Linked DNA regions of Homo sapiens. The protein of the gene in region 1 interacts with the protein of each later gene in a biochemical or structural test. Each region holds a gene or a part of one and is shown on either strand. Other genes may lie near its edges. The genes, in order: RAB6A, SYTL5, GOLGA1 and BICD2.

Region 1 (5,966 bases):
TATGGTTGTCCCAAGGCAGGGGTTGCCCTTTTCTCTGTAAAGGGCCAGATAGTAAACAGTTTTTTGGGTTTTAGGGCCATAAGGTCTGTGGCAGCTATTAAGCTCTGCCATTATAGTGGGAAAGTATGGCTGAGTTCCAATAAAACTTAATTTTTAAAACTGGTTCCAGGCTGCATTTGGTGGGAGGGCCACAGTTTGCTGGCTCCTGTCCCAAGGCAAAGGTATAGTTAGGAGTGAGGACGCAAAAGCAGAACTTAAGATGCTTTTCTTAATATGTCCTATTACTGCCTCCACCAGGGGATGTATCTTTCAAGTTGCAGCCCCTCTCCCCCACCCCCCAACAATACCCCCATCAAAAAAAGAGTCTTTGACTCCCTAGGAGTTCCTCACATTTGTTGTTGTTATTTTTCTGGATTCTGTCCATGTCTGCTTTAAAGGTCTTCCCAGAGAGGGAGAAGTAAATGCTAATTCACCATCTTGGCAGGAATGGGAAACCAGGTCAATAATTGTTTTCTTTCGTGTTTTATTTATATATTTTTGGCAGCAAAATTGTGTTTATTAAAAAAAAAACCTGGACTATGAACACACTTCAATGCTTTGAAGAACTCCAAGCCAAATAAAAAGACCAATCAATATTAAAAGCAGTATAACTGGTTACTTTCTTAAAAATACATAAAAAGAATCAAATGCAACAGTGTAGGAAGACAATCACACCCATGTCAGAAGTCACAACTTCTTCCAAATAAAGAATATGACCCATCTGCCATATTGAATCAATATTTATTTCAGGACATGCCATGTCAAAATAAAACAAAGAGTCAACCCTTGCCTTTAACAATTATATTGTATTATAAAAGCACTTTACAACTCCATCCCATCTTTAAGTATAAGTTACTGGTATGTGGGCTAATGATTATCTGTAAGCATTTCTCTATTCAGATCCATAATCCAAGTGCTCTCTGAATATTACAAGGTGACAATAAGTGGGAAGTGGAGGAGGAAGAGGAAAGAGAGGGGACTAAGGTTCTCCCAGTTTAAGGTTTTGTTCCAATGAGGGGATGAGGAAGTATGAAGATATTTTTGTTGTCTTTTCATCTTTATACTGTGTTAAGTAATGCTTACAACATAAATTCAGCAGGCTTTTCCTGAGCTGTAACTCAGAAGTTTTCGTCCTGCAAACAATGTATTTACAAATGTGTTTATTAGCTTACACAGCAATCTCACAATAACTAGTAAAGATTAAAAGGGCACACTCCTAGTATATTTGTTTGCAGTGTTTTAAGGGAAATACATATTGCCATGGTGAAGCTCTAAATAGATTCAACGAAACATCTGAAGATTGAAAGTTGTTAAAAAAAAAAAAGGCAAAGAAATAAATATCACCAAAGAAAAAAGATTAATTGTAGCTTAAATATAAAACTAAATCACCAGTTAATTAAACTATACAGATCTAATACAAACCAAAACCAGCCTGAAAGACCCAACCTTAAAAAATGCTAAAAAATAAGGCATAAATCTGCATAATATTGAGTTTTATTTCCATTCTCTCCTTTCCCTCTACTATGTATGCTTTACCTGATCTGCCTCTAGGGGCTTACAAGAAAACGGTTTCCGGTTTCCGTCTTCAATTTGACCTCAAATGTCCTGAGCAAAGTTTTTGTTATTCTGCTGAGGGTTCTTTTGTTGGTAAGCTTTAGACATCATTATTTCTACTAATTCAGTAGTTTTGATCGTAGCGCCAAATTTAAATTCTTCCACTGGTTCTTCTGGAAGGAATTAAAACTTTTACAGTGCCTTGCCTGCACAGTATTATGTTTTTAAAAAAGAAAACCCAAGCAAAATCTATTGCTTAAAGAGGTTTCTTATTTTTTAAACAAACAGAATAACTCTTGACAATTTTAAAACCTTGGGAGAAACAGTTCATTAGAACTTCATTTTCTTACCGTGAAGAATTAAATACTAAAAACCTGTTCTGAAGCACTTGGTTAATTTTCTCTCCCAGAGTCTAATAAAGCACATGTGAAAGAGCCATTTGTTTTAGTCAGAAATACATCTTATGTTCTTCTACTTCTAAGTACTCAGTATGTTCTTTAGGACTCATTTTGAAGATGCACCAGGAGCCTTTTCTCATTCAAGCACTGCCTACCATGATGGCTGAATTTTGACCTCAAAGAAGACCGTAATTTATATCAGTGCTCAAGAATAATTTTGGACATCTTGGTCCGTAGCCTACAGCAAGTGGTATCTGTAAAATTAAAGGATAATTCCAATGGGCTTGGTAGAACTGCTGCTTTGCCATCTCTTGTTTGTTTTGAGGAAGTCGGGGGAGGCTAGGTAAGAATAGGGTAATAGGGAATGGGGGTAAGTGAGAGGTGAGAAAAGCAAGGAGAGATAAAGTAGGCTGTGAACATACCGCTCGTTAACCAAGCCATACTCATACTGTTGAGATTTCCATCATTTTGAAGTACATTATCATAACATTAAAAAAGAAAAAAATGTTAAGAAAATGTATCTAATTTTTAAAGTTATCACTGGAATATGCTGAAATATTTTGGCTTTTTGTAAAATATAAATAATGAAGACACTGACTTTTGTTGTGCTTGTGAAGCTAATAGATCATCTCCACGAGACAGGCAGCAATGATGAATTGCAATACGTTATTACTGAAGGGAAAAGGTTCAAGCCAATATTCACACTGCAGTCAATGAAAGAGTAAGGGGGCCAAAGCAGTGAGCTTCTGAAGAAGGTTGAAGATGACATGGGAGATTAGCAGGAACAGCCTCCTTCACTGACTGGTTGCTCCTGAGGCTTTTCCAGTTTTATGTCAATCACTGAAACAAAAGTTAAGAAGCCATAAATGGGAAAGTACAATTTCAATTCTTCCAAACACTAGCATTTCTGGGATGGCCCTTATATTCCTATCTGTCTTCAGAGCCTACACACTCACTATTTTCTACATAGCCGCCTCACCATATAAGGTGCTCAAATGGAATAAACTTGTTTATATCTACTATATGCAACAAGGGTCAGAATGAGGTACAAGCTCTATTTATGGGTATCTATCCTAAGGAACTTATTCTACAGTGGCAAGAAGTGATATGAAGATGATGTTCCTCATAGAATCATCTATAATATAAATCTGAAAATAGCCTACAAGATAGTTCCAACAGCAGAGGAAACATTTAGTAAATAATGGGACTTCAGGCCGGGTGCCGTGGCTCATGCCTGTAATCCCAACACTTTGGGAGGTTGAGGCAGGCCGAACACCTGAGGTCAGGAGTTCAAGACCAGCCTGGCCAACATGGCGAAACCCCATCTCTACTAAAAATATAAAAATTAGCTGGGCATGGTGGCTCATGCCTGTATTCCCAGCTACTTGGGAGGCTGAGGCAGGAGAATCACTTGAATTCAGGAGGCAGAGGTTGTGGTGAGCTGAGATTGCGCTGCTGCACTCCAGCCTGGGCGACAGAATGAGACTCCATCTCAAAAAAAAACGGCGGTGGGCGCGGGGACATACTTCAACTCAATAGAACATTTTTTGTTGTTGTTGTTGTTTTGTTTTTGAAACATATTATGTTTTATGTTGTTGTTGTGTTTTTTTTTTTGGGGGGGGAATGGAGTTTCGATCCTGTTGCCCAGGCTGGAGTGCAATGGCGTGATCTCGGCTCACTGCAACCTCTGCCTCCTGGGTTCAAGCAATTCTCCTGCCTCAACCTCCTTAGTAGCTGGGATTACAGGCGTGCACTATCACGCCCAGGTAATTTTTTTATTTTTAGTAGAGACAAGGTTTCTCCATGTTGGTCAGGCTGGTCTTGAACTCCCGACCTCAGGTGATCCACCTGCCTTGGCCTCCCAAAGTGCTGGGATTACAGGCATAAGCCACCGCGCCCGGCCTGTTTTATGTTTTTTATGAAAACATATAACATTTACAAGTGGGAAGAGCTGAATACAAAGTGCTACAAACTATATGGCTTAATAAAAATGCCTGCATATGGAAATACACTAGAAGGTGAATATGAAACACTGAAAACATCAAATTAAAAATCCTTAGAATTAACTAATATTAGATGTCCCAATCCTTGGAAATGAACTAATATTATGTCCTGTTTCTGAAAGCAGAGGCTACAATAAAGCTCCACTCTATTTCTTGCCTGTGTCAAGTAGAAAGCTCAAGTGTTAGAAAAAGAAATGAAAATTTGATATTCCATGAGGAAAAAGCCTAGAGTCAATGGGACTCAAAATGAAGAGGCAAGGACACAGGGATTCTAAGAGTTTCCTGCTCATTTAAAAGCAAGCAAACAAACACAAAACCTCTCACTGATTAACAACGAGAAGCAGGCTGCAAAGGGTGCACTTGGATAACCAGACCTCATTTGCTATAGAAAACAAATGAATTTCTATGCCTTTAAGTCATCAGTTCCTGGTTGTAAAAGGCAATGGCACAATATTCTTTAGCCAAGCAAGCAGGGCTCTAAAGACTAGTGTTAATAATGAAAAATTTCCAATGAAATAAAAAGGATACTATCTTCTCTGCTTCTGTCCTGTGTGCTTTCCATTCCCGGCAAAGCTGCTGCTACACGTCGAAAGAGCTGTGGGAAAGAGAGAAAAGTGATAACTGAGAGGGAACATTTAGCAAAGGGTACTGAGGTTTATGATCACTGTACAGTGAGCTGTCTAATGCTGGGCGCAGTGGCTCACACCTGTAATCCCAGCACTTTGGGACCCACCCGAGGTGGGCAGATCACTTGAGGTCAGGAGTTTGAGACCAGCTTGGGCAACATGGTGAAACTCTGTCTCTACAAAAAAAAACACAAAAATTAGCCAGGCGTGGTGGCACACGCCTATAGTCCTAGGTACTGGAGAGGCTGAACCTGGAGGACTGCTTCAGCTCAGGAAGTGGAGGCTGCAGGGAGCTGAGATCACGCCACTGCACTCCAGCCCGGGCAACAGGGCGAGACTCTGTCTTTAAATAAATAAATAAATAAATAATAAAATAAAATGTCTATTCATTCTATAAACGAGTATTATATAAAAAGCAATATACCAAATACAAAGAGGTATAAAGACATGATTCCTGTTTTTTTAACTGGTGGGATAAGACAAAAGTAAACAGCTATGAAATAAGCAGCAAAAATGTCATTTGAATAATAAAGTATTACAGAAACGCAGAAAAAGGACAGATCATTCATTTAACAAAACTGTATAGTAGCATTCCTATCTTTCATATAAAGAGTGAGGTTCAGGGCTGGACGCGGTGGCTCACGCCTGTAATCCCAGCACTTTGGGAGGCCAAGGGGTGTGGATCACGAGGTCAGGAGTTCAAGACCAGCCTGGACATGGTGAAACCCTGTCTCTACAGAAAATACAAAAATGAGCTGGGTGTGGTGGCACATGCCTGTAATCCCAGCTACTTGGGAGACTGAGGCAGGAGAATCACTTGAACCTGGGAGGCGGAGGTTGCAGTGAGCCAAGATCACGCCACTGCATTCCAGCCTGGGCGACACAGCAAGACTTCTTCTTGGCGGGGGTGTGGGGGGGAGAGTTAGGTTCTGAAGTCAGTGTATAATATATTGTGAAACTCAGTCCAGTCAAAATTATCCTTCATCGTTCATTAGAAAAGCACTATGTTAGAGATTAATACACCACCCCTCAAGTCCAACACAGCTGGCTTTTCTTCCATCATTGGAATGAGTGTCAGTGGGAGTGGCTGGCTTGTGTTTGAGGTATGAAGCTATGAAAAGTTATCTTCAACAGGAGAAACGCACTCAAGCCTGGTGAGATGTTTACTTTTGAGAGGCATATGAGAACAGATACTGGAACAACAGTTTATACTTCTTATATTGTCCCAATCTTAGGCATACACCCACTGGGTACAACAGCCAGTGAAACTGCCTGATTATTTCAATTATTTATCTTTTAATTAAGCACACAGTGTAAACCCATAAATTAAATGCATATGTGCTGTA
Region 2 (7,029 bases), on another chromosome or scaffold:
AATGGTATTCAACTTAGTAATAAGAGAAATGAAAATTAAAATCATGAAGACTGTAAACATCTACTGGATTGGCAAAAATGAAAAAAATATCTAACAATACCATCTGTTTGCAGGCAAGGAAGTGGAGCAAAGGGAACTCTCATATACTACTGGTTAGACTGTAAATTGGTGTAACTACTTCTGAAAATTTGACATTATCTTTAAAATGATATAGATAAGCACGTGGAGATATGTTCACCCCTTGACTTGACAATTCCTCTCACTGGTATATATTCAAGTGTGTGAACATATATACTGTGTTGTGTGTATACTGTGGTGTGTGTATATGCGCCAGGATACATATTCACAGAATATACATATCAGTGTTGGTCACAATAGAAAAAAATCTGAAAATAACCCAAATATTCAGCAACAAGAGAATGGATAAAGTTTTGGATATCATACAATGGAATATTAAATGACAATATAAATGAACAGGCTACAAAAATATGCCACAATTTTGATGAATTTTAAGGCAATATTAAGCAAAAAAAGCAAAACTCAAAGGAATATATAGCATTTAATTACATTTACACAAAGTACAAAAACAGGCAAAACGAAATCATTTTGTTTCAGAGTATACGCTTATGCAGTTAAACTATAAATAAAAGCAAGAATGTGGTTAACCATAAGAGTTAAAATATTAATTATTCCCGAGGGGAGAAGGGGCTTGTGATATGGACAGGATACACAGGGAGCTTCTGCTTCATCATTTGATTTTGTTATTATACTATATATCTATGTTTTATGTACTTTTTAATATGCTGTATCTTATAATAAAGACTTTTTTAAAGCAAGCCCAGAAGTGTACATCATAATCCTGATTTATAAAACTATAGTTAAAAAAATTCCCATGAATGTATACTTATACTCAGATTTGTGTATGTTTTTATATGATTTTTCACATAAACAAGGAGAAAGACATGGAATGTAACATGTGCAGCAGGATGCTAAATATTAATTTCACCTGGTGTGAAAGGAGGGGAAGGAGGAGAGGAGAAGCAAAAAAGAAAAGTGCCCATAATAAAAAGCAGTATGCATGATACAATCTATCTATGTGTATATATGTATGTGTGTGTGTGTATATATGTATGTGTGTGTGTATATATATATGTGATGATATAATCAAAAATATTGAAATTTGATCATTAATATGTTAATGAGAGACCTAAGTTTTTAGTTTCCATTTATCTATATTGCTTGAAATAATTTTACTAGGAAAATACATCACTTAAATAACTAGGCAAAAAAAAAAAAAGCCATTTTATCATGAAGGAGAAAAAGAAATGGGAAAGGAAAAGTAGAATCTGGGATTGGAGATGAGAGTCCAGTATCTAGTTCATCCTAGTGGAGAGATTTTTGAGATATGCTTTACCATCTTGGCAGTGTGTGTGTGTGTGTTTGCACACACACACAAATTTTTTTTAATTTTAAAGTAACGTAAGTACATTGCCCAACATGAATCACCTTAGAGGTAGGAATTGAACCCAGGTCTGTATGATTCCAAATTTCATGTTCTTTCAATAAAGTAAGCACCATTAGAAAGGAGACCTCACTCTCCACCCCCTATCCCTGCCCACTTCTCCGATGGTATAATTCAGATTGACCGGAGAGGAAAAGAGAAAAACCTAGGAATGGAGTGATTTCTAGAAATTTTTTATCTGATTCTCAAATATTTATGAAAGAAAGTGGTTTCTCAAGTGAAAAAACATTCTAGAAAAACAAATCAACCAACCCACTGATTTTTCCCTTTCTTTTTTAGGACTCCTTGGAAGAGACTGAAGAAAGCATTGATGCCTTAGTGTCCTCGCAGTTATCTACAAACACTCACCGTCTGGCAAGTGGCCTATCAACTGTAAGCAGTTCACTAGGACATGTGGAAAGTTTCTTTTCCCTCTTTTTGATTTTCTGTGCATTTCCAAAGGAGATATGAATGTTCTTAGGAAAATGTGTGATAATGAGTTAAAAGTCATTGTAAGATCCTGCTTGCCCTTTGCCCACAGAGTACATTTCAGTCTAATTTGGTGTGGGTTTTTTCTCAGGCTCCTGATTTCTTCCTTCTTCCACAGTCCTCACCCAGGTTTTAAAATCTCCTCACTCCCTAGTTCAGGCTCAGTCAGCTCAAGCCTATAAATTATTTTTCAATTATCTGCTGACACATTTCCCTGACACCATTCTCTAAACTTCCCAGCTGTCCTCCAGACTGCTGCCAGTCATTTATCCTAAAACACATGCCCAATCAGGTCTGTCTTCTACTCAAAACCCATCCATAGCTTCCCACTGCCTACAAAATAAAGTCCTTTCTTACTTTAGTGTTCAAGGCCTTTTTTGAGAGGAAGGCCCTGTGTCCTTGTATCTAACTGTGTGTAAGTCTTTTTCTTGGCTTCTCTGATTTCTGTTGCTCTGATGCTTTTTTTCTTTTGATCTTTGGATGACTTCTCTAAAGAGTTCTCAAGCAGGTTCTGACAGGAAGTGGACCTACCTAAATGTGCCTGATGCTGACTCAGACACTGTGAGTTTTCAACCTTTCCTTTTTGTTCTTTCCAACCATACTTCACAAATTTCATGGTCTGGGAACTATGATTAAGCAATTTGTCCCACATTTATCTTTTTCCGACTTATATACAATTAACCAGAGGTTATCTTCTAAAAGATTGATGAGATGATCAGAAACCAAGTATTCCAATTCATTAAACATTGGAATCTGAACACCACTCAAAAGACACATGCTCTAAAATGATTAACTATCAACAAAACCTTTGAAGTAAACAACTATTTTAAATCACAGCCTTAGCTTGGTTAAGAGCATATAGTTTAGTTAGTAGTAAAATTGCCATAGGTGTCTTAGTTTCTCACAAGCCTCCGTATTTGTGGGTTCCTAAATTTCCTTCTATCCGTAGGGGCCCTCTGCTTACAGAGGATTTTCTTTGAAAATGTGGCTACAGAGATCTAGTATAGACACAAATCAGTGATATAAGGAGGTAATCAGGTATGGTGGGGTAGTCCTCAGACTAGAAACTTGGAGATCTTGCTTTATTTCTTGGCCATACCAACAATTTTTGTGAGCCAGAATTTTCTCATTTGTAACATGAGTAGGTTGGGGTTTATTCTTGAAACCTTTGATACTCAAAGCATTCTCTATGGACCAGCAACATTGCATCTCTCGGAACAGATACCCCAAAACTTTCTCAGTTCAAAAAGCCCCTAATGTCTCAGTAATTCTTTCCTGGCACTCCTACACTAAAAGTAGCACCTGACTAGTCCATTCATTAAGTAGTTAGAACCAAATAATGTAATAAGCAGTGTATCCTAACAACTTACTAGCCATTTGTAAAAAAATGCTACAAGTGAAAGAAATTGAAAGAAAAATAGTATTTTTATTTCATCCTTAAATAGCACCTATTACTTACCACTAATAGGATATGTGTGCCTATTGAGCACTACACAGTTACCAAATCTTGGAATCTGATTGGACATCACTACTTTCATTTCCCATTTCACATTGATTTTTATGCAATACTTGCTTTTTGTTGCAGCAACTGCCAAAAACTCAGCTTCAGACAAATAGGAGTTCATTGAAAAGAATAAAGTGTGGTTTAAAGTTGACACTGTGAATTACTAGTTAGTGGCTTACATGGTGTCTGATAGGTGTTGTTGTGTTTCCCTTGAGAATTTAAAATATTTCTGTGATTCCCCTGTGAGTTTGCTGTGGTGCTCTGTGGTACCTCGATACACAGTTTCGGAACTGCAGGCCTAGGAGTTTGTTAGAACAGCCAAATCTCAGACCTCACCCCAGACTGAGGAGATAAGCGTTTTCAGTTTAAAAAGGTATCTGGGTGCTGCTCAAAGCCACCTGCTAAACATGAAAATTCTGTTGCTTTGTTTTAGGAATAAGAAAGACAGATTAGGTCACTCACTGGCTTTCTTTAAGCTGTAATTTCCAAATAATTATGGAATTATTGGTCTGCTCTTGCCCGTGAAGAAGCTTAGAAGACATGTGACCACATCACCCACATCCTGTTCTTTGGTCAGTCTCTACTTCCAGAAATTGGTGGAACATAATGGCTTTTACCAAAAGCAAATTATGAAAAAGAAGACAGTCTAAGGTCCCTGTGTATTTACCATAGTCTTGACTTCCCAGTGGTTCACAGAAAAGTGGTTTTGAAACTATTGGGTCATCCACGAAAGACCTCCAGGTGGTCTTTTGTGACAGTTACTGAGATACATAGTTTTCATTTCTAGTGCCAAAGGATAATTTTATTACATTTACAGTAGTCACCTTTATCCACAGAGGATACATTCCACCTACCCCAGTGGATGCCTAAAACCTCGCGTAGTACCAAACCCTAGCCAAGAAACACCAAGGTCACATTTTCACTTAAAGAAAGCACTTTTGGCTTCTCTTTGACATATGTAAATTACTACCATCATTACTCTTACACTGTGGAGTCATTATTAAGTAAAATAAGAATGAGTTGAACACAAGCTCTGTGATAGCAGGACAGTCAATCTGATAACTGAGACAGCTAAGTGACTAATGGGCAAGTAGCATCTGCAGTGTGGCTCCTACAGTGTGTCCAACTGGACAAAGGGAGGCTTCACATCCAGGGTGGGATGGAGCAGTATGATGTGAGAGTTCATCATGCTACTTGTGAACCCCAAAACTCTGAGGCATGTCTCAGTTAATTTAGAAAGTTTATTTTGCCACGGTTGAGGACCGGCACCCCTGACACAGCCTCAGGAAGTCCTGCCAACGTGTGCCCAAGGTGCTCAGAGCGCAGTTTTGTTTTATACATTTTAGGGAGACATAAGACATCAATCAACATATGTAAGATGAACACTGGTTGGGTCTGGAAAGGCGTGACAACACGAAGTGGGGAGGGAGCTTCCAGGTCATAGGTAGATAAGAGACAAATGGTTGCATTCTTTTGAGTTTCTGAGTAGCCTCTCCAAAGGAGGCAGTTAGATATGCACTTATCTCAGTGAGCAGGGGGATGACTTTGAGTAGTATGGGAGGCAGGTTTGCTCTAAGAAGTTCCCAGCTTGACTTTTTCCTTTAGCTTTCTGATTTTGGGTGCCCAAGATATTTTCCTTTCACATACTCAAAACAGCATACAATTTAAAACTTATGAATTTTTTGTTTCTGGAGTTTTCCATTTAATATTTTTGAACCGCAGTTGACCATGGGTAGCTGAAACTACAGAAAGTGAAACTGTGGATAAGGGGGACTACTATAAATTAAAAGCTGTCTCATGTCATTAGTGTCTTGTCAAAAGCCTCATTCATTCTGGTAGATTTGGACTTTTTTAAAATTTATTTTCCTGATTGGTTGGTGTGTGATTTTATTGTGTAGTAGTTTATTTTGTGGGCTGCTACTTTATACAGATTTACAAAGCCATGGTCATATACTACTCATGTAGCCACACAGCTAGCTACTCAGTTGAGGGAAATCATGGAAGCTGTGGGTATGTGATGTTCTTCTGATATGTCCTTGTTAAAGCTGTAGTTATGGCTCCCCGGAGACTGATGGGATGCTCCATGTAGGTGTCAAAGAAAGCAGTATGTGGCTCCTGCTAGCACAGAATATGAGATAAGCTACCCTTTGTCCCAATCAATGTATTCTACACCTTATAGTAGATTGAACTTGAGTCTAACAGTGAAAATGGAGAAAGCTGCAGAGATAGACGAGAAGTGAGATTTGAAATGCCTCAATTACCCTGTATTCATTAGTAGAAGTGAGTAAGCAAAGGGTATTCTCTAACCCAAGAAGGAAATGCTTCCCCTCTAAGCAAATTTTCTGCCTTTTTTCCTGATGGTACTAGATCTGCTGTCTTTTCTCCAGCTGGGATTTTATACAACACCAGCCAAACAAGTGACTCTTGTTTTCTTTCCTCACCCTAGACTTCCATGCTCATTATAAAGAACAGGAACTATAATTGAATGAAATGAGTTGATTCTGTGAAGAGATCATTAGAATGACACTAGAAGCCTTTTTCCATCTTGTTTATTCCAGACCAGCCTTAACAGCATGATGAGCGTTTACAGTGAAACGGGAGACTATGGCAACGTGAAAGTCAGTGGTGAAATCCTTCTCCATATCAGCTACTGCTACAAAACTGGTGGGCTGTACATTTTTGTCAAGAATTGCAGAAATCTGGCCATAGGAGATGAAAAGAAACAGAGGACAGATGCGTAAGCACATAGCATGTTCCTCAGACTATTTCAGTCACTGCCTTTTTTGTCTGTATGTGTGTTTCCTTTTCAAAAGAGTCTTAGCATTCTTCTTGATTCAGTCTTCTCAGAGAGTTGATTGTCATGTTCCTCCTATACCACACTTTTAAATATTCTCTGAAGCAAATGTATACTGGTTGTGTCTTTGATTAACTGATTTTTAAAACATAATTCAGGATTGACATATTTGCAATTTACACAGAGGCAGCTCTTTGAAGTAGAATGCTGACATGTTGGCACACCCAGGATGTACAAAAGCATCTTGTCGATTTCTGTTCTGGGAAATCCTCCAGAGAAAATTACCAAACTGTTACCCAATTAAACAACTCAAAAGGGCAATTATGAGGCTCTCAGGATTCTAGAGATCAGCCTGGGAGGGCAGGTATGGACCATAGCACACTGGAGAGAAGCTAGATATAAAGGTGTGTCAGGGGTTCTCAAGACCACTGCCAGGTTCAGTGATTCACTAGGAGGACTTAGGACTCTGCACGCAGTTATAATCAGCAAAGAGGCACATGGGGCAAAGTCCAGGAGAGATCAGGCTCAAGCTTTGCAAGGGTCCTTTCCCAGTGGAGTCACATAGGATGCATTTAATTCCTCTGGCGATGAGTTCTGACAACATCTGTGAAATGTTGTCTGCCAAGGAAGCGTGTTAGAAACTCAGCTGGTCACATACCAAATTTCCAGTCTCTCAGGAGAAAAAGAACCCGTTCAGCATAAGCCATATTGTTTGTACAAACAATTTAGGAACAACGAGCC
Region 3 (7,029 bases), on another chromosome or scaffold:
CCTCCTTAGGGGCACTCTCGGCACCTGCCCTGCATCTTGCTGTAGCACCCATGCAGGTGCAGCTGGGACTTACGTGCGACTCATTGACTGAGAGTGCTTCGGCCTGCAATGGGCCCCGCAGCCTCAGCAGGTCCTCCTGCTCCGCGACCACTGCAGCCTCCTCCGCCTTGAGGGTCCTCAGGGCCTCCAGCTCGGCCTGCAGCTGGTGTATCTGCAGCAGGGCAGAGTTGTGACCTAGGTCGGGGAGGAGGGGAGGGGGCACTGTGAGCCCAGTGACTCCATGCTGCTTGGTGGCAAGGCCGTCACAAGGCAGGATGCTGGGCCTGAAAAGGAGAGAAGGCTCAGCCAGGGACCGACTCCTCACCTCGCTCCAGCTGGAGAATCTCCTGCTCTTTCTGGAGAAGCACTTCGGTTTTTTCCCGCAGATTCTGTTCCTTCTCGTCTATTATGGCTGTCAGGTTAGCTGCCTTGGAGAGAAAAATCAACAAGAGGGAAGGTTGTGAGCAGTGACTCCATCTTCCCACAGAAATCTCCACTTCCCCGCTCTCCAGGGTACACCACGAATCCCTCCCTGAAGTCCACGACCCAGAGCAAACCCCCAGCTAAGCTCTGCTCCTATGAACATGCACAAATCTATTCTCCTTGGTAGGGGCCCTGCACAGGGGCAGTCGCCTCCCACTGCCCCCTGGCCAACAGTGGGTCAACCAGAGACGTGGCCATTCTGCCCAGCCCAACAAGCTGTCATAACTTCCATTTCCTGAGTGCCTGCAACATCCCCAGCACTAGACACGCATTTGATATATGTTGCCTCATTACAGAATAGTTTCCCAGAGGTGTAAGTAGAAGGCTAGAGTCCTCATCAGAGGAGACTCAGATTTGTTAAGGACTTACCAAAGGCCTAAAGCCACTTAACTAGAAGCTCTGGGGTCAGATGCAAAGTCTACCTTCAAGGGAGGCTTTCCCATACTTCCTGCAAAAACTCAACCCAACCTTACGTGGCCTCTGGGGCAGGTGGGCAATGATAGGTCACCTCACAGAATTAGAGCCCACTAGGCCCGTGGACATGGACCACTTTCCAGGTAATTATAGTTGAAAAATCAGAAAAGGGCATCCTATGGGGTAAGAGTTTCTTTATAACATTTGTCTCCCAGCTTCCTAGAGAGCACAGGGGCCCACGCAGCTGACTGCATTCCCTGAGTCCTGAGTCTACTACCCTACCCTGGAGAGACAGGCCCTCTCCAACAGTCTCACGGCAGGATGGGCCTGCTGCCTGTGGGACTGCAGGGGGACATCGCCCCTCAGCGTGAAACAGGGCCCACCTGTTGCTGGAACTCTTCCCTTTGCTTCCGCACCTCCTCCAGGGCTTGAGCCATGGCCACGCTCACAATTTCTCTTTGGCTCCATTCTTCCTACAATGCAGAAAACCACTGAGCCCCAAAACTTAGTTCACAGTTTTTTAGCTGTATGCCACGCAAGAAGCCCAGCAGACAGGGCATGGCTTTGCAGAGCCAGACCAACATGCTCCCCACTTCCCAGGCTCCCAGCCTGGCCCCTCCCTGCCATGCCCTCAGTATCCCTCTCAGAGCTATCCTGGCAGGCAACCCACCGACTTCTCTGGAAATGGCACACCACTGAGGATCGATTGCCCCACGAGCACCCCCGCCAGGACCCACACCAAGGCTAGGGGCCTATCCTGAAGAGCTGGTCTAAGGACAGTAGCCAAGAACAAGAAGTCAGACTCGCAGGCCACGTGAATGGAGTGGGGGACTGGAACAATTGGTTATGGAAAGAAGAAGAAGTAATGACCAGGGACGGTGGCTCACACCAATAATCCCAGCACTTCAGGAGGCTGAGGTGGGAGGATCGCTTGAACCCAGGAGTTCAAGGCCATCCTGGGTAACACAGTGAGGATCTGTCTCTATAAACAATAAGAAAAATTAGCCGAGCATGGTGTCACATGCCTGTAGTGCCAGCTACTCAGGAGGCCGAGGCGAGAGGATTGCTTGTGTCCGGGAGGTCAAGGCTGCAGGAAAATGGATTCCTTCAAGCATCAGCTAGTGAGGGGCTAGGCTGACAAGACAGAACTGAGTCTCTGTGGCTCCAAAGTCTGCCCTAGCGCCTCAGAGCCACCTAAGATCCAGCACTGTGGGAGGTGGGGTTGACAGTGCCTGCTCAGGTTCACTGTGGCACAAAGCAGGGCCTGCAGCTTGCAGAAGCCACCAGGCCACCCATGCACGGCTGCCTCTGCGATGATTCTCCAGGATGGGCTTAGGGAACAGCTGCTTTGAAGAGCGTGGATGGAGAAAAACAATTCTAAATGTATGTGCACCTAATAGCAGCACTTCAAAATACATGAAGCAAAGACAGACAGAACTAAAGGAAGAAAGAGACAAATCTACCATCGTAGTGGAAGACTGAGCACACCCTTCTTAGTAGCTGATGGAACAAGTAGACTGTTAAACTAAATATGGCCTTGATCTGTCTCACCCAGAGCTTAGCGATTTTATTCACCTTCAAATAATCCACCTCAGGCTTCAGCAGTCCTCGCTACTATGAGAGGGTCCCATTCTTTTGTTTTTTTTTTTCTTTTTTGAGATGGAGCTTCTCTCTTGTTTCCCAGGCTGGAGTGCAATGGCGCAATCTCAGCTCACTGCAACCTCTGCCTCCTGGGTTCAGACGATTCTCCTGCCTCCCCCTCCCGAGTAGCTGGGACTACAGGCATGTGCCACCACACCCAGCTAATTTTTGTATTTTTAGTAGAGACCGGGTTTCGCCATGTTGGCCAGGCTGGTCTCAAACTCCTGACCTTAGGTGATCTACCTGCCTTGGCCTCCCAAAATGCTGGGATTACTGGTTTGAGCCACTGCGCCCAGCCTCCCTCCCTCCCTTCTTCACTTCATTCCTGAGACAGTTTCATTTTTGTTGCCCAGGCTGGAGTGCAATGGCACGATCTCAGCTCACTGCAATCTCTGACTCCCGGGTTCAAACAATTCTCCTGCCTCAGCCTCCCAGGTAGCTGGGATTACAGGCATGTGCCACTATGCCCAGCTAATTTTTGTATTTTTAGTAGAGATGGACTTTCACCATGTTGGTCAGGCTGGTCTTGAATTCCTGACCTCATGTGATCCATCCGCTTTGGCCTCCCAAAGTGCTGGGATTACAGGGGTGAGCCACCACGCCGGGCCCATTTTATTTTCTATTTCATTAATTTCTGTGCTTATATTTGTTATTTCTTCCTTGAGTTTGATTTGTGCCTTCTTCTGACTTTTTGAGATGCATACATGGCTCAATTTTCAGGCTTTCTTCCTAAGAGATGCCACTGAGACTGAAATTTCCTTCCATGCACTGCTTTAGTTATACTTGACCAATTTTGATCCACAGTATTTACAAAATCATTTATTTCAAAATATTATAATTATTTTTTTGAGACAGAGTTTTGCTCTTGTCACCCAGGCTGGAGTGCAATGGCACAATCTCAGCTCACTGTGTGAGCCACTGTGCCCAACTTTATTTCAAAATATTTTAAAATTTCCATTGTGATTTTTTTCTTTGACCTATGGGTTATTTGAAAGTGTATTTCAGGCTGGGCATGGTGGCTCACGCCTGTAATCCCAGCACTTTGGGAGGCAAAAGTGGACGGATCACCTGAGGTTGAGAGTTCGAGACCAGCCTGACCAACATGGAGAAACCCCATCTCTACTGAAAACACAAAATTAGCCTAGTGTGGTGGTGCATGCCTGTGATCCCAGCTACTCAGGAGGCTAAGGCAGGAGAATCGCTTGAACCCAGGAGGCGGAGGTTGCAGTGAGCCGAGATCACGCCATTGCACTCCAGCCTGGGCAACAGGAGAGAAATTCCATCTCAAAAAAAAAAAAAAAGAAAGTGTATTTCTTAAATGTAAACATATAAGAGTTTTCTATATGTTTACATTTAAATTTTTATGTTTTTGGAAATGGGTTCTTGCTCTATCACCCAGGCTGCAGTCCAGTTTGTGATGATAGCTCACTGCAGCCTCGACCTTCTAGGCTCAAGAGAGCGTCCTGCCCCAGTCTCCTGAGTAGCTGGGACTACAGGTGTATGCCTTGATGAACTGTGATGAAACCATCACCCTAATAAAAATAGTAAAAATACCCATCCCCCAGAAAGCTTCCTCCTGTCCTTTTGTAATTTATTGTATTAATTTCAGTTATTCTATTTTTCAGGTCTAAAGTTCTATTTGATTCCTTTTTTAAAACTGCTGTCTTTTATCATAACTATAATAATAGAACTATTCCACATCTTGCTGAAATTTTAAATTTTGTCTTTTATCTCCTTAAACATAGTAAGCATATGATATCTGAGCCCTTGTGAGTCTGTTTCTTTTGTGTTGTTTTGTATTTTTGTTTACCTATCTTTGATTTTGTTTTTTCTAGTCACCCAGGAGCACTAATAACCTGGGATCATTTTAATCCAAAATTAGCTAATGGGCTTTTCCTGGGCCACCCCGTGTCCTTCAGTTAGTGCAATCAAAGCTGGGGGCGGGGTGCAGATGGGGTGCTGGTTACTTCCCGTTCAAGCTTACTCCTAGCGTGTAGTCCTGTGGTGTGCCTAACCAAAGCTTTCAGGATCTCCCAGGCTGGATCCAAGCTTTAATAAAATTTAAACTCCAAATTTTATTCCCCTAACTCTGAGAAACTATGAAAAACTTAGATAAACTTCCAGCCTCTTCAGGATCAGCAGATACCACCACGGCAAAAGCTGCTTTGCATGCTGGACTCCCGTCCCTGGGCAGGATGGGCCATTCCTCAGTCCTGTAGGCTCCTACAAGCAGATGTTCTCTTATTTTGGCCAGTTTTTCTGGGAGTCCTCAGGTGAGCTGGTCTGAATTACCTAGTTTGCCTTTACTGCAAGTGGAAGCATCTCTCTAGTCTCATTTTAACCTGCTCTCGTCAACCATATTCCCTACGACTCTACGGTGACTATTCTTCCCAGCGTTGCCAACAAACTCAGTCTCGTCAAATCTAATGGTCAGCTCTTTGTCTCCTTTCTTGACCAGTTGGCAGCATATCACAGAGTTCACTACTCAATCCTTCTTGTAGCGCTTTCTGCCCTGTACTTCCAGAGCCCCACATGCACCTGCTTTTACTGCTACCCTACCTGCGGCTCCTTTGGCGTCTTCTCTGTCGGCCCCTCCTTTTGTTCTGAGCCTGTGCTTGTGGGTGTGGCCCTGGCCTTCATTTTGGCCTCTTTTCTATCTGCACTCATTGATAGCCATTTGGCTGTAATTTTGCCTATGAGCTATGCTGATTGATGGTTTCCTAATTTAAAGTTTTGTGTGTGTGTGTGTGTGTGTGTGTGTGTGTGTTTGAAATAGGTTCTTGCTCTGTCATCCAGGCTGGAGTGCAGTGGTACGATCTTGCACACTGCAAGCTCCGCCTCCTGGGCTCCCAAGCAGCTGGAACTATAGGCACACAGGCTTCCTAATTTATATGTCTACTCAGAATCTGCTCCAATTTTCCAGACTTGTCAGCCTACAGACTACTAGATATGCCTGTTGGGTAGGCCTCTGAAGCTCAACATGCCCAAAATGGAATCCACTCTTGACATACCTCCCAGGACCCCCATCTCAGTGAATGGTACGTACCCTATTCATTCAGTTACCCCAGTGGTTCTCTGCCAGCAGTGCTTTTGCCCCCACAAGACATTTGGCAATGTCTGGAGACACTGTGGTTGTCCTAAGTGGGGCTGCTACTGACATCTAGTGGGTAGATGCTCCTAAGCATCTTATCATGCATATTTGCAGCAAATACAACAAAGAACTTCCACAACAGAGAACCTCCACAACAGAGACCCATCCAAAACAGAGAACCATCCACAACAGAGACCCTCCACAACAGAGACCCATCCACAACAGAGACCCATCCACAACAGAGAACCCTCCACAACAGAGACCCATCCACAACAAAGAACCATTCACAACAGAGAACCACCCACAACAAAGAACCATCCACAACAGAGAACCACCCACAACAAAGAACCACCCACAACAGAGACCCTCCACAACAGAGACTCTCCACAACAGAGAACCATCCACAACAGACTCTCCACAACAGAGACCCTCCACAACAGAGACCCTCCATAACAGAGAACCATCCACAACAGAGAACCATCCACAAGAGAGAACCCTCCACAACAGAGAACCCTCCATAACAGAGAACCATCCACAACAGAGAACCCTCCACAACAGAGAACCCTCCACAACAGAGAACCATCCACAACAGAGACTCTCCACAACAGAGAACCCTCCACAACAGACTCTCCACAACAGAGAACCCTCCACAACAGAGACTCTCCACAACAGAGACGCTCCACAACAGAGAACCCTCCACAACAGACAACCCTCCACAACAGAGAACCCTCCACAACAGAGACCCTCCACAACAGAGAACCCTCCACAACAGAGACCCTCCACAACAGAGACCCTCCACAACAGAGAACCATCCACAACAGAGACCCTCCACAACAAAGAACCACCCACGACAGAGACCCTCCACGACAGAGAGCCTCCACGACAGGGAGCCTCCACGACAGAGAGCCTCCACGACAGAGAACCATCCACAACAGAGACCCTCCACAACAGAGAACCCTCCACAACACAGAACCCTCCACAACACAGAACCATCCACAACAGAGATCCTCCACAACAGAGAACCTCCACAACAGAGAGCCTCCACAACAGAGAACCATCCCCAACAGAGACCCTCCACAACAGAGAACCCTCCACAACAGAGAACCCTCCACAACAGAGAACCCTCCACAACAGAGACCCACCCACAACAGAGACCCACCCACAACAGAGAACCATCCACAACAGAGACCCTCCACAACAGAGACCCTCTATAACAGAGAACCATCCACAACAGAGAACCATCCACAACAGAGAACCTCTACAACAGAGAACCATCCGGCCTCAAACGTCAATAGCGCTGAGGTGGAGAAACTCTGAGTTATACAAACCAAACCTAGGTGTCATCTACAATTCCTATTTTT
Region 4 (7,029 bases), on another chromosome or scaffold:
CTTAGCCCAGATCCCCTGTAGCATGGTTGGGGAAAGAGCCTGCGTTGAGGGTGACCACCATTACTGGTGACGGTTAGTGTTCTGAGGGCCCAGCATGAATTCCATTCTTTCCACACCCTGTGTGTCTTTGTCCACCTCACTGACAGCATGGCCAAGGAACCTGGGGCTGACAGCCTGCCCTGACATGGGGTGGGATGTCACTAGGCCATCTTGGGGGTCCTCCAAGCTCTCGGGGTCCATAGCAACTGACATGGTGTCCTGCTGCCTGTGCCTTTGCAGATGGAGCGGGAAAAGGCGGGCCTGCTGGCAACGCTGCAGGACACACAGAAGCAGCTGGAGCACACGCGGGGCTCCCTGTCAGAACAGCAGGAGAAGGTGACCCGCCTCACAGAGAATCTGAGTGCCCTGCGGCGCCTGCAGGCCAGCAAGGAGCGGCAGACAGCCCTGGACAACGAGAAGGACCGTGACAGCCATGAGGATGGGGACTACTACGAGGTGGACATCAACGGGCCTGAGATCTTGGCCTGCAAGTACCATGTGGCTGTGGCTGAGGCTGGCGAGCTCCGCGAGCAGCTCAAGGCACTGCGCAGCACGCACGAGGCTCGTGAGGCCCAGCACGCCGAGGAGAAGGGCCGCTATGAGGCTGAGGGCCAGGCACTCACGGAGAAGGTCTCCCTGCTAGAGAAGGCCAGCCGCCAGGACCGCGAGCTGCTGGCCCGGCTGGAGAAGGAGCTAAAGAAGGTGAGCGACGTCGCCGGCGAGACACAGGGCAGCCTGAGTGTGGCCCAGGATGAGCTGGTGACCTTCAGTGAGGAGCTGGCCAATCTCTACCACCACGTGTGCATGTGCAACAATGAGACACCCAACCGTGTCATGCTGGACTACTACCGCGAGGGCCAGGGCGGGGCCGGCCGCACCAGTCCCGGGGGCCGCACCAGCCCCGAGGCGCGTGGCCGGCGCTCACCCATCCTCCTACCCAAGGGGCTGCTGGCTCCTGAGGCGGGCCGAGCAGATGGTGGGACGGGGGACAGCAGCCCCTCGCCTGGCTCCTCACTGCCATCACCCCTGAGTGACCCACGCCGGGAGCCCATGAACATCTACAACCTGATCGCTATCATCCGTGACCAGATCAAGCACCTGCAGGCAGCCGTGGACCGCACCACGGAGCTGTCACGCCAGCGCATTGCCTCTCAGGAGCTGGGCCCCGCCGTGGACAAGGACAAGGAAGCGCTTATGGAGGAGATCCTCAAGCTGAAGTCGCTGCTCAGCACCAAGCGGGAGCAGATCACCACGCTGCGCACTGTGCTCAAGGCCAACAAGCAGGTGAGGTGCCAGGCAGCAGGGGCACATGTCACCTACTACTGGCCTAAGGGTGTTTCCCCCTTGGCCTCCTTCCTCCCCCTGCCACGGGGCCCCCCCAGGCCTGCGTCACCACCAGACAGAGCCAGCCCCATAGTAGCTCGACTGCCTACCCTCCCCTGCTCAGGGCCCCCAGCTGGGAGGGTGGAGCAGGCAGGTGGGTGTGAGGGCCCCTCAGCAGAGCTGCTCAGCCAGTGAGAAATGCCGCTGCCCTTGACTCACTGTGACTGCCTCGTAGTGCTTCCTGATACTGGAGGGAAAACATGTGAGAGCCATAGTCTGAGCTGTGGAGAGCAATTGTGGGGCTTCGTGGAGGTCCTGTTGGCAGGTTTAGGGGCAGTCCCTCCTCTGCCAGTCAGAATCAGCAGGTGGGACTCCCCATGGCGTAGCTGCTGGAGTCCATCCCCAGGGTTTGTCACAGGGAGGGGCCTCCCAGGAGCTTTCTTCCCAGGCACTGCCACCACTTCAGACCGGGGCTCCCGATCCTGCTCCCAGAGCACCTCTAGGCTGACTTCACGCCTTTCACTTTTCCACCCTACACATCTGTCCCCCAGACGGCCGAGGTGGCCCTTGCCAACCTGAAGAGCAAGTATGAGAATGAGAAGGCCATGGTTACCGAGACCATGATGAAGCTGCGCAATGAGCTCAAGGCCCTCAAGGAGGACGCAGCCACCTTCTCCTCGCTGCGTGCTATGTTTGCCACCAGGTAACCGTGCTGCTGTCGGGCCCTCCCCTTCCACAAGGCCAGCTGTCCTCAGCACTTGCCTCTGGAACCCTTAGCCTCTCACTGCCTCATGCTGAGGCCTGCAGCCCTGACTAGTCAGTGGCTGTGCCCAGCTCCATCAGGGCCAGCATGGTACGAGGTTGGGGAAGCATGGCCCCTGGCACATCTCTGGCACACTGGTGCTCAAGTTGGTGACAAGAAAGGGTGAGGCGATATGGGGGCCACATGGGGTTGGGGGCCCCTAGCTGCTGCACCTCAGCTTCCTCCGAGGTCACGCAAGCAGTTGCTGGAGCATAGGGCATGCCTGGCAGGTGCCCACATGTGGCCGGGGATAGCAGAGCGTGTGTGATCCTTTTAATGTTCCTTTTGCACCTAGCCCAGCCCCCAGGAGCCTGGTTCTGTGGCGCCGGTTCCATTTTGCTGTGAATGAAACCGCAGCAGGCCCAGGCTTGTCTCTGCTTTGCATATATGGAGACTGAGGGCAGAAGGGCTGAGGAGAGCAGATCCTGGAGTGGATGGGCCAGAGTTGCATAGCTTCAGGGGATGCTTGGGCTCCCACCCCTTGAATCCAACATTTACAGGGACTTAACTTGGGGCCAACAGGTGACAGAGGAGTCCTGGCCTTTCCTCTCATGAGGTATTTGCCCCCAAGAACTTGGCCATATGGCACAAGTGTGTATTTATGTTTGTAGATTCAGAAGGAAGATTATCCTCCTGGCTGGAGCAGGTCACTGCTGGGGTCCACAGTTCGGGTCCCACCTCTGTGCATAGCCCTGTACCTCTGCGTCATTGTGACCGCTGGGTACTCACCTCCCATCCTCTACTTTGCCAATCTGGGGAGGGTGAGGAGAGGGCCGGGGCTTGGAGGAGACCAGCTTTCTTTCTTCCTCTGTGGAGGGCTCTTAGTAATGGGCTCTGAGGTGGGCTGCCCCTGGTGGGTGCACACCCCTCCCTGGCTGGGACTCAGACCCCAAGGCTGGGAATCGAGGCTCCCTAAGTGTTCACAGGCCTCTGTGGGGCAGGTCCTGGTTTCAGCATCTTCCCAGGTGCCCCCTGACAGGTACCGCTGTCTTTCACTTTCCAAAGATGGGTAGCGCCACCTGCTGGGTCATGTTGGGATAGCACCATGGGGTCAGCCCTGCATGGGGGACAGCCAGGCCCACCATGGGCCCAGCAGATAACCTAGATGTTTCCTTTTTATGGGTGAGCAAGCTGAGGATCTGAGCTGGACAGGGTGGGAACTGCATGCACATAGGGCCTGCTTCTCTCAAGCCTGGTGCCGTGCACTCCCAGTTTCTCAGTATCCCTGCAGGACGTGCCAGAGCAGGGTACAGACAAGGAAGAGTCCCAGGATTTCTCTGGAAGCGTCCTGTCTTCCTGGGGCTTGGGGAAAAAATCCCACAGTTTCTCAGTATCTGGCATGTAAACCCTACCTTTTAAAATTTGTTTTATTTAAAAACTTTTCAGATGGAGCCAAGATTTTGAATCTGCAGGGATCACAGCTCTGTGTGCCCTCAAAAGGGTGGGCAGCAGAGTCCTTGGAGAGGGTGCTATCCAAGGGCCGGCTCCTGGCAGGTGGGGACAGGCAGAGTAGGGTGCGTGTGGGCAGGGTGGGGCTGTGCTCAGTGCCTGCACAGCCTCACCGCCCTGGGAGCCCTGGGATTTAACCCGCCCTTTGTCTCTACCAAGCCCCACCCATATGGGACATGTGGAAGAAGGGCATCCAGGGACAGACCACACCCTCCCACAGCTCCGCACCCGGGTTTCAGGATGAAGCTGTTGATGGCGTCCACACACGTGGTTCCTTGGCTCTGGTCAGTGCTCAGCACAGACTGACGAAGCATCGACCTTGGGAACAAGCCCAGTCCTGCTTAGATTTACATCCACACCCTAGAAGCCATGGCTTCTCCATGTCTTGATGCCCCAGGCCACCTCGAGGCCTTTAAGCGGGGAGAGCGCCTCCTAGAAGAAGCCCAGTCGCTGAGGGGCATAGCCTGTTTGTAAGCACTACATGCAGCTGAAAGAGCAAAGCAGCCCCTCCCCCACAAAACCACAAAACTCAAGCCAGCCTCATAGGGCTGCCCTGCCTGGGCCCAAGCCTCCCTCTCACCCTTATCAGGGATTTGTCCAAGCAAAGCCTGTGCTAAAATAAGCCAGAATAATTCTTCCCCAGCCACACCCTCCAGTCCAGAGGCCACATTGAAGGATGGCTCTGGTATAGGGCTGTCAGAGGGCCGTGCAGCTTAGCCCTGCCCTGCCCTGCCCTCCTCTGCTCGGCTCTGCCCGCCCCTCAGTCATGTTTTTGGTACCCACAGGTGTGACGAGTACATTACACAGCTGGATGAGATGCAGCGGCAGCTGGCGGCTGCTGAGGACGAGAAGAAGACGCTGAACTCGCTGCTGCGCATGGCCATCCAGCAGAAGCTGGCGCTGACCCAGCGGCTGGAGCTGCTCGAGCTGGACCATGAGCAGACCCGGCGTGGCCGTGCCAAAGCCGCCCCGAAGACCAAGCCAGCCACACCGAGCGTAAGTCACACCTGTGCCTGTGCCAGCGACAGGGCCGAGGGCACCGGGCTGGCCAACCAGGTGTTCTGCAGCGAGAAGCACAGCATTTACTGTGATTAGGGGCTGTGGGGCGCCGCACGCTGCAGCTAACATCTGCTTCACCTCAACTAACCCAGCAGCAGCGGGACGGCGGTGCTAGGTCAATCTTAACGTGACTAATGCACAGAGGGTAGGAGTCTAGCCGAGGCGCCATGGGGCGTTGCATCAGCAGGACACTTGTGAGAGCTTTGTGTCGCTTCTCACTCCTCAAAGCCCCCTCAGGAGCACCCAGTCCTCAGCTGCTCTCTTAGGTGGGGGTCAGAGGTGGGGATAGAGCTGCACATTCTTGCAGCAGATGTGTGATGAAAGCATCTTCTAAGCCCTGCGCACCCGTGGGGAAACCCAAGGGAGGAGTCCTGGTCCTGCTCCCTCAGCACCCAAAAGGGGCAGAACCTGAGTTGAGACTTGCATGTTCCTCGCATGTGTCTAATGTCAGCACTAGAAAGCAGTTTTAGGAGGTTCCAGCCTGCAGCATAGGTACGACCTCAGAGGATGGCTTTGCACTTGGCATAGTTTCATGGAAAGGAGTACGTTGTAGTTTATGCAGTATCTGACTGCAAATCATATTCAGGAAAGAAGTGCAGAATTTCTTCCCCAAGCCCAGAGAAGAGCAGCCCTGAGCCCCTGTATTCTGCTGGCCAGACACACATGGCACAGACACAGCTGACCATAACCCAGGAATCCAGAGCTCGGTTTCTCATTTCTGAGATCAGGATGCTTGTATAGTGGCCTGTGAGGTGACAGATTGGCAGGGCCCAAGGCCCCAGGTTTTCATTTTTCATGAGAAAAGCTTTCCAAGTGCCTGGCCAGACCTTGGTCCTTAGTGCAGAGCCCGTCCTTTTGTACTTGGGGTGACCCCAGCAGCCAATTATCCGGCCTTCCATAGGGGGTTCAGTCCCAAAGACATGGGGCTTTGAAAACCCTAGCCTGAAGTCTGAGCCACCAAGGGCTTGGCTGGGTTGGACACCCACAGGTGTATCCAGAGCCCAGCCCGGTGCTGGGAAAGCTTTGCATAGGGCCAGGGCCACTTGTCAGGATTCACAGGTAGGAGATGTTTAGGTCTCTTTATTTAGTGCAATCTGGGGGATGGCAACAGAGAAAGAGGAAAGGTAGCTGTAGGGTTCTCCCATTTCCAGAGGCTCCATCCACACCTGCCTTCCCACATTCTGAGCAGAACTTTTCTCAGTACTTTTTTCCCGATCACCCTGTGGGACCAGCTGGACCTGAGGCTGCAGTCTTCTCTCCTGCAGGCTGCTTGCCTTGTCTCTCATGCGGAAGAGGCATTCGAGTTACCTGGTGAGAGACCGTGTTGCCCCCTCCCACAGCTCTCTGCCCTGCGCGTTCTTCCCTTTGGTGCCGAGTATGTTTCGGTCCCCTCCAGACTCCAGGACACGCCCATGTATGTCCCCTGCGTGTTCATCCTGGGCCCAGATCCCCCTGCCCCAGCAAGACTCGCAGTGGGATGGCTGCTGGCATGCCCACCCTGCATGCGCTTTGCCCTCTCCTTGCAAGCCTGGCACATAGCTTCTCTCCATACTCCTAAGGGACTTTGCAGACACCCAAGCCACTGGGACCCCTGCTAACACATGCAGGTCTTCTCTTCTGCCAACTAACGTGCTCGCGCCCTCCCAGCACGTGGAGAGCTTCAATTGTCAGATAAACAGGAAGCGACAGATGACCGCTTTCTAACGCTCTCTTTTCTCCCGTTTTCAGCTGTAGAGTAGCTGCCAGGAGGACTTGGCCACCCGGCCCTGTCACACTGCAGCCCCTTCCCCTTCCCTCTCGTGGCCCACAAGGAGGAAGGAAGGGCAACCTAAAAGCCCACTTAGAAACTTTTTGGATATGCCACTGCAATTCTTTTCAAAATAGCATTCCCCAGGTTTTTAATGGGAGGAAAAAAAGCTTTAATGTTGAGCATGCTGCGAGCTGCTGCGTGGAAAGGCCTCTGTATGGGCCGAAGACCCTTCTTCCCTGGCTGCCAGGCTCGCCAGGAGCCCACTGGAAACGCCCACCACGGGGGCTCCTTGTTACACATGTTCTTTTTTTATCCGATCAACCTGTGCACTTTTGATATTTTGATATTATATTTGCTTCCTTAATTCCTCGCGTAGAGACGGTCTCAGGTGCCGTGGTCTATGCTCGTGGTCCTGTAGCTGTCCGCCTCAGCTCCCACCGTGTTTGTCTGGTGTCAGCACGAGGCAGAGCTGTGTGCTCCATAGCGTGTAGCTTTAGACTCGGAGATGAGTGCTTTGACCCAGCGAGGAGCTCAGCTAAGTGTATCCACGCTGTGGTTCAGCAGCCTTTAGATCATACGGCATTGTGGTTCATGTTTGAAATTACAG

The links.
Region 2: the proteins of RAB6A (region 1) and SYTL5 form a complex in vitro, tested with the Homo sapiens proteins (one study listed by BioGRID).
Region 3: the proteins of RAB6A (region 1) and GOLGA1 interact in far-western blotting, tested with the Homo sapiens proteins (one study listed by BioGRID).
Region 4: the proteins of RAB6A (region 1) and BICD2 form a complex in vitro, tested with the Homo sapiens proteins (one study listed by BioGRID).

Annotation. Positions count from the first base shown.
Region 1 is NC_000011.10:73,675,132-73,681,097, forward strand, and holds the end of RAB6A (ras-related protein Rab-6A), read right to left. Parts: intron 4,590-5,966; coding exon 4,523-4,589; intron 2,832-4,522; coding exon 2,767-2,831; 3' UTR 507-2,766; downstream 1-506. UniProt on the Homo sapiens protein: The small GTPases Rab are key regulators of intracellular membrane trafficking, from the formation of transport vesicles to their fusion with membranes.
Region 2 is NC_000023.11:38,100,541-38,107,569, forward strand, and holds part of SYTL5 (synaptotagmin-like protein 5), read left to right. Parts: intron 1-1,801; coding exon 1,802-1,894; intron 1,895-2,485; coding exon of another isoform or gene 2,486-2,551; intron 2,552-6,052; coding exon 6,053-6,231; intron 6,232-7,029. UniProt on the Homo sapiens protein: May act as Rab effector protein and play a role in vesicle trafficking. Binds phospholipids.
Region 3 is NC_000009.12:124,889,070-124,896,098, forward strand, and holds part of GOLGA1 (golgin subfamily A member 1), read right to left. Parts: intron 1,410-7,029; coding exon 1,320-1,409; intron 468-1,319; coding exon 365-467; intron 235-364; coding exon 74-234; intron 1-73. UniProt on the Homo sapiens protein: Involved in vesicular trafficking at the Golgi apparatus level. Involved in endosome-to-Golgi trafficking. Mechanistically, captures transport vesicles arriving from endosomes via the protein TBC1D23.
Region 4 is NC_000009.12:92,712,833-92,719,861, reverse strand, and holds part of BICD2 (protein bicaudal D homolog 2), read left to right. Parts: intron 1-279; coding exon 280-1,323; intron 1,324-1,913; coding exon 1,914-2,065; intron 2,066-4,398; coding exon 4,399-4,708; 3' UTR 4,709-6,400; coding exon of another isoform or gene 6,401-6,406; 3' UTR 6,407-7,029. UniProt on the Homo sapiens protein: Acts as an adapter protein linking the dynein motor complex to various cargos and converts dynein from a non-processive to a highly processive motor in the presence of dynactin.